Linked DNA regions of Homo sapiens. The protein of the gene in region 1 interacts with the protein of each later gene in a biochemical or structural test. Each region holds a gene or a part of one and is shown in the gene's direction. Other genes may lie near its edges.

Region 1 (3,650 bases):
TTTTTTGGGTATGGATCTTGCTTTGATTTTAAGCATTTAGAGGGTCAGGGTTAAGCATTACCATGGTTGCTGGCCATGGTAAAATACATATCTGTTTATGTGTATGTACGTGCACATTTACATACATACATATATACTTACAGCTGCAGCAGAACCTAGGGAGGGTGATGGGAAAGAGTAGTGTAGATGCTCCCTAACATCCTACGTCTGAGAACATTGCTTAGGGCTGGCTGTATCACTTGCAGCAGATAGATATCCACTCAATTACATACACCTCCGCTTCAGACCCATTTGCAGCCCTCACCCTGCTCAGTTTTACTGAAGTCAGTGTGGGACTTGGAGTCGGAAGGTCGAAGCCAGTGCCTGTTTGAGATAGTCTAGCGATTACTGGTTTGAGATTGTTTCTTTCTAAATTAAATTGGGGATGGAAGGACCTTTGTTTCAGACAGCATGTCAGTCTAGACAACCACCCAAGATTTCCCACCATAAAACGTCTAGAAATGCTAGATAAAAATAAAGATCTTTTAAAAAGTACATAGTTTGGGCTGGGTGTGGTGGCTCACGCCTGTAATCCCAGCACTTTGGGAGGTTGAGGCGGGCGGAACACCTGAGGCCAGGAGTTCTAGACCAGCCTGGGCAACATGGTGAAACCCCGTCTCTACTAAAAATACAAAAATTAGCCTGGTGTGGTAGCGGGCACCTGTAATCCCAGCTACTTGGAAGGCTGAGGCAGGAGAATTGCTTGTACCCGGGAGGCAGAGGTTGCAGTGAGCCAAGATTGCACCACTGCACTCTAGCCTGGGAGACACAGCAAGACTCCGTCTCAAATAAAAAAAAAATTACAAAAATAAAAATACATAGTTCAGCTCGCAAGAAAGGGAAATTCTCTTACAGAGTAAATAAAGAAGAGGAGGCCGGGTGCGGTGGCTCACACCTGTAATCCCAGCACTTTGGGAGGCCGAGGTGGGTGGATCACAAGGTTAGGAGTTCGAGACCAGCCTGGCCAACATGGTGAAACTCCGTCTCTACTAAAAACACAAAAAATCAGCCGGGCGTGGTGGCGCACGCCTGTAGTCCCAGCTACTTAGGAGTCTGAGGCAGACAAATCGCTTGAACCCGGGAGGCGGAGGTTGCAGTGAGCTGAGATTGTGCCACTGTACTCCAGCCTGGGTGACACAGTGAGACTCCATCTCAAAAAAAAAAAAAAAAACCGAATGTGGTAAGCAGGCCGCCCTAAGGATATTTGCCAGCTGGGTCACCAAGAGTCCTTTGGTGCCTTGTGTGTGGGGGATGGGAATGGACAACTCCAGATAAAGCTGGGGACCCCGAGAGAGCTGTGCCCTCAGTGAGAGGGTAGACTGGAAATTTTTGCCCACCAGCACAGGGAAACAGAAAGGCACCTGGGCTCTGGGTGGTCAGCACATGTGTTGAGAGTGGGGATGCCTCCCAGAGAATTCTTTTTTTTTTTTTTTTTTTTTTTTTTTTGGATTTTTTGGAGATAGGATCTTACTCTGTCACCCAGACTGGAGTGCAGTGGCACAATCTCAACTCACTGCAGCCTCCACCTCCCAGATTCAAGTGATTCTCCTGCCTCAGCCTCCTGAGTAGCTGGAATCACAGGCATGCACCACCACACCCGGCTAATTTTTGTACTTTTAGTAGAGATGGGGTTTTACCATGTTGGCCAGGCTGGTCTTGAACTCCTGGCCTCAAGTGATTTGCTCACCTCAGCCTCCCAAAGTGCTGGGATTACAGGTGTAAGCTACCATGCCCGGCCTATGAGATTTCTTTTTAGGGTGATAGAAATGTTCTAGAATTAGATTGTGGTGATAACTATGAAACCACTAAAATTCCTTGACTTGTACACTTAAAATGGGTAGGAAAAAGAACATGTTTATCAAAAAAAAAAAAAGGAAAGAAACAAAGAGGTCTTCATGGGCGTGAAATCCTTTAACGTTTGCCTCAGCTCTGAGCTCCCCGCAGGTAAATATGCATGCCTGTGTACCCATTCTCTCCTACATTTGAAATCACTCTCTTCCATTAGTTTAAGGAGACAGGAGTTTAAGGAACATTTACTGAGTACTCACAACATTCCAGGTGCTGGGGCTGTAGGGACAAATAGATCTCGGTTACATTTTCGTTCTCATCCTCACTGCCAGGCACCCTGCCCCCATTTCTCCCACCTCATTTGACTGCCGCCTCCTAACTTGTCTGAACTCATCTGTCTCTCTGCTTCCCAGCTGGCTCCTCCCAAATCCATCCTACACATTGTCATCAAAGTTATCTTTTTTCTTTTCTTTTTTTGAGACAGGGTCTCGCCCTGTCCCAGGCCGGAGTGCAGTGGCGCAATCATAGCTCACTGTAGCCTCAAACTCCTGGGCTCAGGTGATCCACCTGTCTGAGCCTCCTGAGTAGCCAGTTCTATAGGCTTGAGCCACCACACTCAGCTAATTTTTAATTTTAATGTTATCTTTTTAAGACAAACCTGATCATGTCACTCACTTTCTGCCTAAAGCTTGTCAATGGCTCCTTATTGCCCAGAGGCTCATGTCAGATTTTCTGTAGCTTCCCTGCTTCTAGCTTCATCTCCTGCTGTGTTCCTACTTTTAAAATTCTCTAGCCAGAATGAATGATATTTCCCAAACAGTGCCTTTGTCAGAATGAATTCAGTTTCCCAAACAATGTTTTTACACAGCTCTGTATTTTAAAAAAAAGTGTTAAGTGGATCATACATACATAAGTATATAACATATTTAATACTAGTTATTTAAATAATAAAAATAATAACACTGTATAGCTCCGTTTTCATATGGCTATAAAGAGCTACCTGACACTGGGTAATTTATAAAGGAAACAGGTTTGATTGATTCACAGTTCCACATGGCTGGGGAGGCCTTAGGAAACTTACAATCATGGAGGAAGGGGAAGGGGAGGCAGGCACCTTCTTCACAAGGTGGCAAAAGAGAGAGAAAGTGGCACACTTTTAAACCATCAGAGCTCATGAGAACTCAGTATCATGAGAACAGTATGGGGGAAACTGCCCCCATGATCCAATCACCTCCCACCAGGTCCCTCTCTCGACACGTGGGGATTACAAATCGAGATGAGATTTGGGTGGGGACACAGAGCCAAACCATATCAATAGCTTAAGAGAATGCTTGCTTCTTTGAAGCTCCCTATTTTCTCCCTCTACCCTCCCTCATCCAGAGGTAACTGCTGTCCTGGATATCATGTTAATCCCTTGCTTTTCTTTACAGATTGACTGCATATGTATTTGTTCTTAAACAGTGTTGTTTGGTTTTGCCTGTATTTGAATTTTATATAAATTGAATCATACTACATGTATTTTTCTGTGTTCTTTGTTCAGTATTCTTTTTAAGATTCACTCAGGCTGACAAATGTAGCTGTAGTTTAGTCATTTTACTGTTACATATTCTGCTTGTAGGGATATACCACAATTCCATTCTGTTGATGATTTTTTTTTTTTTTTTTTTGAGACGGAGTTTTGCTCTTGTTGCTCAGGCTGGAGTGCAATGGCACAGTCTTGGCTCACTGCAACCTCCACCTGCTGGGTTCAAGCAGTTCTCCTGCCTCAGCCTCCCGAGTAGCTGGGATTACAGGCACCTGCCACGCCTGGCTAATTTCGTATT
Region 2 (3,650 bases), on another chromosome or scaffold:
GGAGGGGAGGAGCTCTTGGCAGCTTTTCTTTTGCTGCTTGGCAGGACCACCCTCTCAGCCTCTGCTCTCCGATCCCTGGTCAACTCTAGCTCTCTCTGGGCTCCGCAGCAGAGATGTGTATTGGCACAGAGTGTGTGCGTGCAGGGTTGAGGAAATACTCTTACCCCGATTTCTGTACCCTGGAGCATGTGTGCCCCTGGGATCCCTAGTGTGGAAGCCCAGACCAGACTCCAACCAAGGAGTGGGCAGTGGGCTTGGTCTCCTCTGGTCCTTCCTCCCACAGGTGGGTGGAATCACGGTGACACAGATGTTTGGAGAGGTCACGGAGATGCCCGCCTTACCCTTCATGCTGGCCGAGTTTGATGGGGTTGTGGGCATGGGCTTCATTGAACAGGCCATTGGCAGGGTCACCCCTATCTTCGACAACATCATCTCCCAAGGGGTGCTAAAAGAGGACGTCTTCTCTTTCTACTACAACAGGTGGGGACTGGGACTCCAAGGGCTGAGGTGGGGGGACAGGAGGGGAGAAGAGATGGGGAGTGGAAGGAGAGTCTGGGCCAGAATTGTAAAGTGTTTGTAATTAGGTGACAGCCAATCAATATCTAGAGCTGTACTAGCCAATATGGAAGGCACTATTGAAATTTAAATTAATTAAATACAGTTAAGCATCAATTAAGCATTCAACTGGTGGCTCTTAGTTGTACTAGCCACACGTCAAATGCCTGGCAGCCACGGTGGCTAGTAACTACAGTCTTATGACAGTGCAGATAGAGAATATTCCCAGCATGACAGGACATTCTAATAGACAGCGCCACTCTGGAGCAAGAGGAGATGCAAGGTGGGGGCGATGGTAAATAAGGGATTACTGTGACCTGTAGCCCTGCCTGTTAGGGCCATGGCTCCTCCCACACAGAGACAGCCAACTTCAGTCATCCATTAGATCCTTCATTCGTTTGTTTGCTCACTCATCAGTTCAGTAAATGCTATGTGCCAAGCACTGTGGTAGGCTCTGGGGGTGCAGCAGTGAACACAGTGAACAAGGCAGAATCTGTACTCCCCTACCCACATAGAGCTTACAGGCTAACAGGGAAGACAAGACATATTCCAACATAAAGAGTGTCACAGGCAGGCAGCAAGTGTGGTGCTGAAAACCATGGATGCTTTTCAATTCTAGGCTGAGCTTATATGCAGCTCAGCCAGCCTTGGGGAAGCTCTTGAGCAGGGTTGGGCTCTACTCCAAACTGCTGGGCTTAGAAAGATGGCATGAGTTGGAGACAAGAGAGCTGGAGGCAAAAGGGGCTGGGTGCAGTGGCTCATGCCTGTAATCCCAGCACTTTGGGAGGCCAAGGCGAGAGGATCGCATGAGCCCAGGAGTTAAGGCTTCAGTGAGCAGTGATTGTGCCACTGCACTCCAGCTAAGGCAACAGAGTGAGATCCAGTCTCAAAAAAAAAAAAAAAAAAAAAAAAGTCACAAGGGTAAGAACATGAGGCCAGTGGCAAAAAGAATAGAGGAGAGGATCAGAGTTCAGAGAAATCTCACAGTAAAATGGAGAGGAGTCTCCGGTTTGGTGATAGAAAGTGAGGCCTTGAGAAAAGGCCAATTGGCGGCTCTGCATTCAGGGGTGGTCTTTAGAAGAACTGTTTTAGAGGAAGTGGGGGCAAGGCCAGATGGCAAGAAGTTAAGAGGTGGACGACGTGGGTGTCAGGAAGTGGAGGTCATGAGATGTAGGCTGCCCTGGGACATTCAACAGGGAAGGGAATGGGGGGTGGCGTGGGGGGTGAGATCCAGAAGCAGAAGAGGAAGGGTGGGTGTTTTTAAATGCTAGAGGATGCTCGAGTGATGCCTGTAGGTGGAGGAAGAAGCCAATGGAAAGAAAGAGATTAAAAATGTGGAAAGAAGAGGAGCTAAATGGGGGCACTGGAGTTTGGAGGCCTTGAAAGAGATGAGGTTCCAGCAGACAGGAAGAAGCCAGGTTTTGCAGAGGAGAGGGCTGGCCTCTTCTTTTATCTTGGGATGGGAAGGAGGGAACATCCAGAGAGATACTGAAGTGTTGAGAGACAGGCAGGAGGGAATTTGTGCTAGCATATACACATACATTCCGAATTTATAAAAACACAAGTAGTTTGCAGTTGCACAAAATAACATATGCACACCTACACACCCATGCACACATGTGCATGTGTGAATTCTAGTATGAATTCTGGAAAAACACATCACACACACAGGCATGCCCTGGAGACTAGGCCTACAGTAGTCCCTGAGCCAAGTGCAGTGAGGAGGAAAGGAAGGTGAGGGGAATCAGCTCCAGACGGGGCACCAGGAGCCTGGCTCCAGTCCCCCACTTGTTCACTCATGGACTGGGTAACTTCAGGCAAGTGACTTCGCCTCTTGGTGACTCCATTGCCTGAAGGGCAAAGAGAGTACATAACACCCACCCTGCCAAACAGCAGGGCTGATGAGGCTGGCATGAAATGAAGCTTCCTTTCTGCTGTCTCTCTTTCTCTGCAGAGATTCCGAGTAAGGAGACAAAACCCCCACATGGCTGTGACCTTCCAGTACTCCCCGAGCACCTGACCTAGAATTACACACGCCACCGGCCCAAAACTCACATCAGCAAGCCCAGCCTCCGCTAGATGCCGAAGTTCTCTGTCTCTCCTTCCTGCTCTCTCCATGCCACCTGCCCACCCCATACCCAATAGCCTCCCCAGGGTCCCCTCCCATGCACCTGCTCAATCAGCAGCAACCCAAGAGTGAGGGGTGTCCATTTGTGTCTTGTTCACATCCACTCACTGTCCTTGTACCTGCTCCTTTTCTGTGACCTCTCTGGGGATGCTTTTTGGGGGAACAGCTGGACTACCCTGGAACAACCTCTGGTTGGTCTTGGGGAGGGGAAGAAAGGCAGAGAAGCAGTATGTTCTGCATGCTTCCCAACGACAGCTCCGAGCCTGGCTGTCTGTCCCACATTCCTCTGCTCTAGAGCCCTCTGTCCTCCCCTGCACCCTTGTGCAACCTTCCCCAATTGCCTGAGTTGCTGGGTCCTGGAGGTTATGGGTTTCCAAGAGCTTCTGATCTTTCCTTTAGGAATTCCCAATCGCTGGGAGGACAGATTGTGCTGGGAGGCAGCGACCCCCAGCATTACGAAGGGAATTTCCACTATATCAACCTCATCAAGACTGGTGTCTGGCAGATTCAAATGAAGGGGTCAGAAATCCTCAACCCTCCCCGGGCTCCAAAAAATGCTGCCGTCACTGGGGTTGGGGAGGGTGGGGAAGGACTGCATTACCATCCTGCCCTCTTTCCAAATGCAGCCACTTCTTAAGCACAGCCACCATTTGCTCTCTGCCTGCTCTGTCCAGGCTGGGGAACAGAGAAGGGAGGGGCCTGGGGAGAAGTGGTGGAGGGTGACAGTACCTTCCCTCCTCTACTCACTGCCTCAACAGGCCACCAGCGTGGCCTCCACCCACCCACCCACACTCAGGAAGGACATGCAGCCTGGAGGTGCCCCATCAGCCTTCTGTCTGTCTGTCTGTCTGTCTGTCTGACTGTGGCCTCCCCCAGGGTGTCTGTGGGGTCATCCACCTTGCTCTGTGAAGACGGCTGCCTGGCATTGGTAGACACCGGTGCATCCTACATCTCAGGTTCTACCAGC
Region 3 (3,650 bases), on another chromosome or scaffold:
ACCCTGCAGTTTCCCGCTCACATGCCCTTCCGAGACTGAGTGCTCCGAGGACTGAGGACGAGAAATATGCCAGGTCTGCCACTGCCTTCTTACGAGACCCGGACCCAGGGGAGGCACAGCCATGCCCAGCTCCTGCCTGCCAGTTCTGTCCTCCCAGCTGCCCTACTTTCATGCTGGGACCTCCAATTCAGTACAAAGGGAGACCTCACTGTTTCTGAACCATCTCTACTCAGACTCCCAAGTGCCACGTGCCCAGGGGACTGTTCTGTGACAAACTTATACACAACTTCACCCTATTCTCCTAAGAACAACCGCAGAATAGGCCTTTCAGGATGAGTGGGAGGACAGCCGAGGGCAGGGATGTGCTAGTGTAAGGTCGAGGCAGAGGGTGGGCTGCTGTCATGGAAAGACCCCAGGTAACTGCGTCACACACAAATTTGTGTCCTTCTCCCACAACGGGCTCTCCCGAGTTCTCTGTCATCTGCACGGCCCTGTGAGCAGGAGGGGAAACAGAGGGCTCACCCCTGCCCCCAAGGCCCAGTGTGCAAATCCATTCATCACAACGAGGTTGTGTGAGTCTCCCCAGTAGCAAGGGCTGCTGAGGAATGGAGCCCTCGTTTCCGGGGCCTGCGTGGCCCACTCTGTATTCTATGACTGTGATGGGGGAGGGTGGGGGCCACAGGACAGCTGGTGGGCTCTGCCATGGCTGGGGCTAGACATGGATTAAAAAGTGAGTATGAGCAGGGGCCTCTAGGAGTGGTGGGATAGTGCGGTGGTGGCCACATGTCATTCTACGTGCGTCCAAACCTACAGAATGTAAAACACCAGGAGGGAGACTCAAAGAAAACTATCAACTTTGAGTGCTGAGGACGTGTCAGTGTAGGTTCGTCAGTTGCAACAAATGGGCCACGCTGGTGTGAGATGTTGATCACGGGGGAGGCTGTGTAGTGGGGGACAAGAGTTATATGGGAACTTTCTGTACTTTCTGCTCGATTTTGCTGTGAACCTAAAGTCACTCTAAAAAATAACATCTCTTAAATTTTTTAAAAAGTGAGTGTGTCAAACCACAGCCTTTGGGTCAGGACAGTTCTAGGTTTGAGTTGACCTGGCAGGTACCAGTGGCTTATGTCCCTTAAGGTGACAGATGCAAAACCCCCGGTTTGGTGCCTGGCATGTTGTGTGTCTTGCAGGTGGCGGTTAGGGCTGCCTCAGTGAACTCAAATGGCTGCATTTTACAGGAGAAATATTTGAGCCACACTTGCGGTCCTGTGGCCAGGAGAATGCAGAGTGGCCTGGGGGGGGCCAAGGAAGGAGGCTGAGGCAGGGCGAGGGGCAGGATCTGGGCCTTTGGTGTCTGCCAGCCCTCATTCCTGCCCCTGTCTTGGGTGACTCTTCCCTCCCTGTCTCCTGTCTGGATTTCAGGGAAGATGAAGGGCTTCTCCCTGCTGGCCGAGCCCCAGGAGTTCTGGGTGGACAACAGCACCTCAGTGTCTGTTCCCATGCTCTCTGGCATGGGCACCTTCCAGCACTGGAGTGACATCCAGGACAACTTCTCGGTGACTCAAGTGCCCTTCACTGAGAGCGCCTGCCTGCTGCTGATCCAGCCTCACTATGCCTCTGACCTGGACAAGGTGGAGGGTCTCACTTTCCAGCAAAACTCCCTCAACTGGATGAAGAAACTATCTCCCCGGTAGGAGCCTCCCGGTCTCCCCTGGAATGTGGGAGCCACACTGTCCTGCCCAGGCTGGGGGCGGGGTGGGGAGTAGACACACCTGAGCTGAGCCTTGGGTGCAGAGCAGGGCAGGGCCGCGGTGGCACGGGGCTGGGCAGGCGGCCTGTGTGTCTGTCTACCAGTCCTCTATCCAGCCAGCACCCAGCTCTCCAGTTAGTGTCTGTCTTTCAAGTGCAGGCAAGGTAAAGGAGGAGAGGAAGAATGCTTTTTCTACACTTACACTTGCCTGGTAGTTTTGGAGGGGGAGAAAACATTGCAATCCGCCCTCTGAGAGAGGACCATTTTGGTCCCACACCTGACACACAGCACACCTGTGACATCCAAGAGCTTCTTGGAACTGACTTGCCAGGAGGGTTCGGACTTCGCGTGAGCGGGGGTGGGGCCTTCTCAGGGAGCGTCCCTTGACTCCAGAACGCCCTTGCTGGCGGCTGGCGGCTGGGTGGGGATAGGTGTTGTTAGCTCCTCTTTCCTGCTGCAATTCCTTTCCACAGAGCCCTGGACTCAAACTACACATCACCCCAGATCATCGAGGCCTGGAAATCTGCTCCCAGAGGCAGGCATTGAGTGACACGATGGCTTGACATCAACTCTGGGTGTTTTTTATGTTTTAAAAATTGTGATGGTAAAATATACGTAACAAAATTTGCCATCGTAACCATTTTCGAGTGCACAGTTCAGTGGTACTAGGCCCATTCACACTGTTGTGCAGCCATCACCCCCGTCCATCTCCATTTATCTTCTCAACTTCCCAAACTGAAGCTCTGTCCTGCTGAAACACTAACTCTCCATTTCCCCTTCCCCTTGGCCCCGGCAACCACCACGATGTCCTCGAGGTTCACCCATGTTGTAGCACATGTCAGAATGTCCTTCCTTTTGAAGGCTGAATAATATTCCATTGCATGTGGTTACCACCTTTTGTGTATCCACTCATCCATCGATGGACACGTGGGTTGCTTCCACCTTTGAGCTGCTGTGAATAGTGCAGTGTACCCTGTAAACATGGGTGTACTGTCAGCTCTTATAAGTGCTTGATACATCACTGGAAATGTCCATGGGCTCTGAAGGATGCCAAAAGATGGAAGAGGCTCTATACGAAGATCAATCGAGTTGACATAGCAACGTGTCCAGCACGAGGTTGACACTGTACCCTCCTGCCTCTCTCCTTTTCATGGGTGTCATGTCATCAAGAACACTGCTGTGGCAGTAGTAAGACACAGTGCATTATTTCAGAGAATAGCATTTAAAAATTACCCAAGTAACACACCTTCAATGCAGCCAACCTAAAAACAGAATGCACCAAAGGACAACCATTCCTAGGTCCTCATCGGTAAATCTTCTATGTCCCTCACATAGTATTGCAAATGACATGAAGGATTTTTATTGTAGGTTTTGCTGAAATTTTCCCCAAGGGGGAGGATGACTTAGTTGGGTGATGGGGGGAGCAAACATCCCTGTCGTCAGGGTTGGGTGCAAGGAGCATAAGCCTGCCTGGCCTCTGGGAGAGCCCTCACTGTGTGGCCTGGAGCCTTCCTAACTGTGCATCATCTCCCCAGGACCATCCACCTGACCATGCCCCAACTGGTGCTGCAAGGATCTTATGACCTGCAGGACCTGCTCGCCCAGGCTGAGCTGCCCGCCATTCTGCACACCGAGCTGAACCTGCAAAAATTGAGCAATGACCGCATCAGGGTGGGGGAGGTATGTGTGAGCCTGTGTCTGTGCCTGACCTGGGTTCCAAGTGTGCACAGGGTGGGAGGCATGGATGTAAGGGACACAGAGGAGGCTATGGGTGGGGCCAGCAGGGCAAGAGGGAGCGGAGAGTAGGGCCAAAGGTGGGAGAGAAGTAGCCAGAGCATTCTGGGGCCTTCCAGGTGCAGAGCAGCAAATCCCTCCCCATCCCTGCTGTGCCTCCTCCTGC

Evidence for each region.
Region 2: the proteins of ATP6AP2 (region 1) and REN form a complex in vitro, tested with the Homo sapiens proteins (one study listed by BioGRID).
Region 3: of the proteins of ATP6AP2 (region 1) and AGT, one has a biochemical effect on the other in vitro, tested with the Homo sapiens proteins (one study listed by BioGRID).

Annotation. Positions count from the first base shown.
Region 1 is NC_000023.11:40,601,457-40,605,106, forward strand, and holds part of ATP6AP2 (renin receptor precursor), read left to right. Parts: intron 1-3,650. UniProt on the Homo sapiens protein: Multifunctional protein which functions as a renin, prorenin cellular receptor and is involved in the assembly of the lysosomal proton-transporting V-type ATPase (V-ATPase) and the acidification of the endo-lysosomal system.
Region 2 is NC_000001.11:204,156,229-204,159,878, reverse strand, and holds part of REN (renin preproprotein), read left to right. Parts: intron 1-283; coding exon 284-480; intron 481-2,509; coding exon 2,510-2,518; intron 2,519-3,082; coding exon 3,083-3,202; intron 3,203-3,559; coding exon 3,560-3,650. UniProt on the Homo sapiens protein: Renin is a highly specific endopeptidase, whose only known function is to generate angiotensin I from angiotensinogen in the plasma, initiating a cascade of reactions that produce an elevation of blood pressure and increased sodium retention by the kidney.
Region 3 is NC_000001.11:230,703,973-230,707,622, reverse strand, and holds part of AGT (angiotensinogen precursor), read left to right. Parts: intron 1-1,422; coding exon 1,423-1,690; intron 1,691-3,285; coding exon 3,286-3,430; intron 3,431-3,650. UniProt on the Homo sapiens protein: Essential component of the renin-angiotensin system (RAS), a potent regulator of blood pressure, body fluid and electrolyte homeostasis.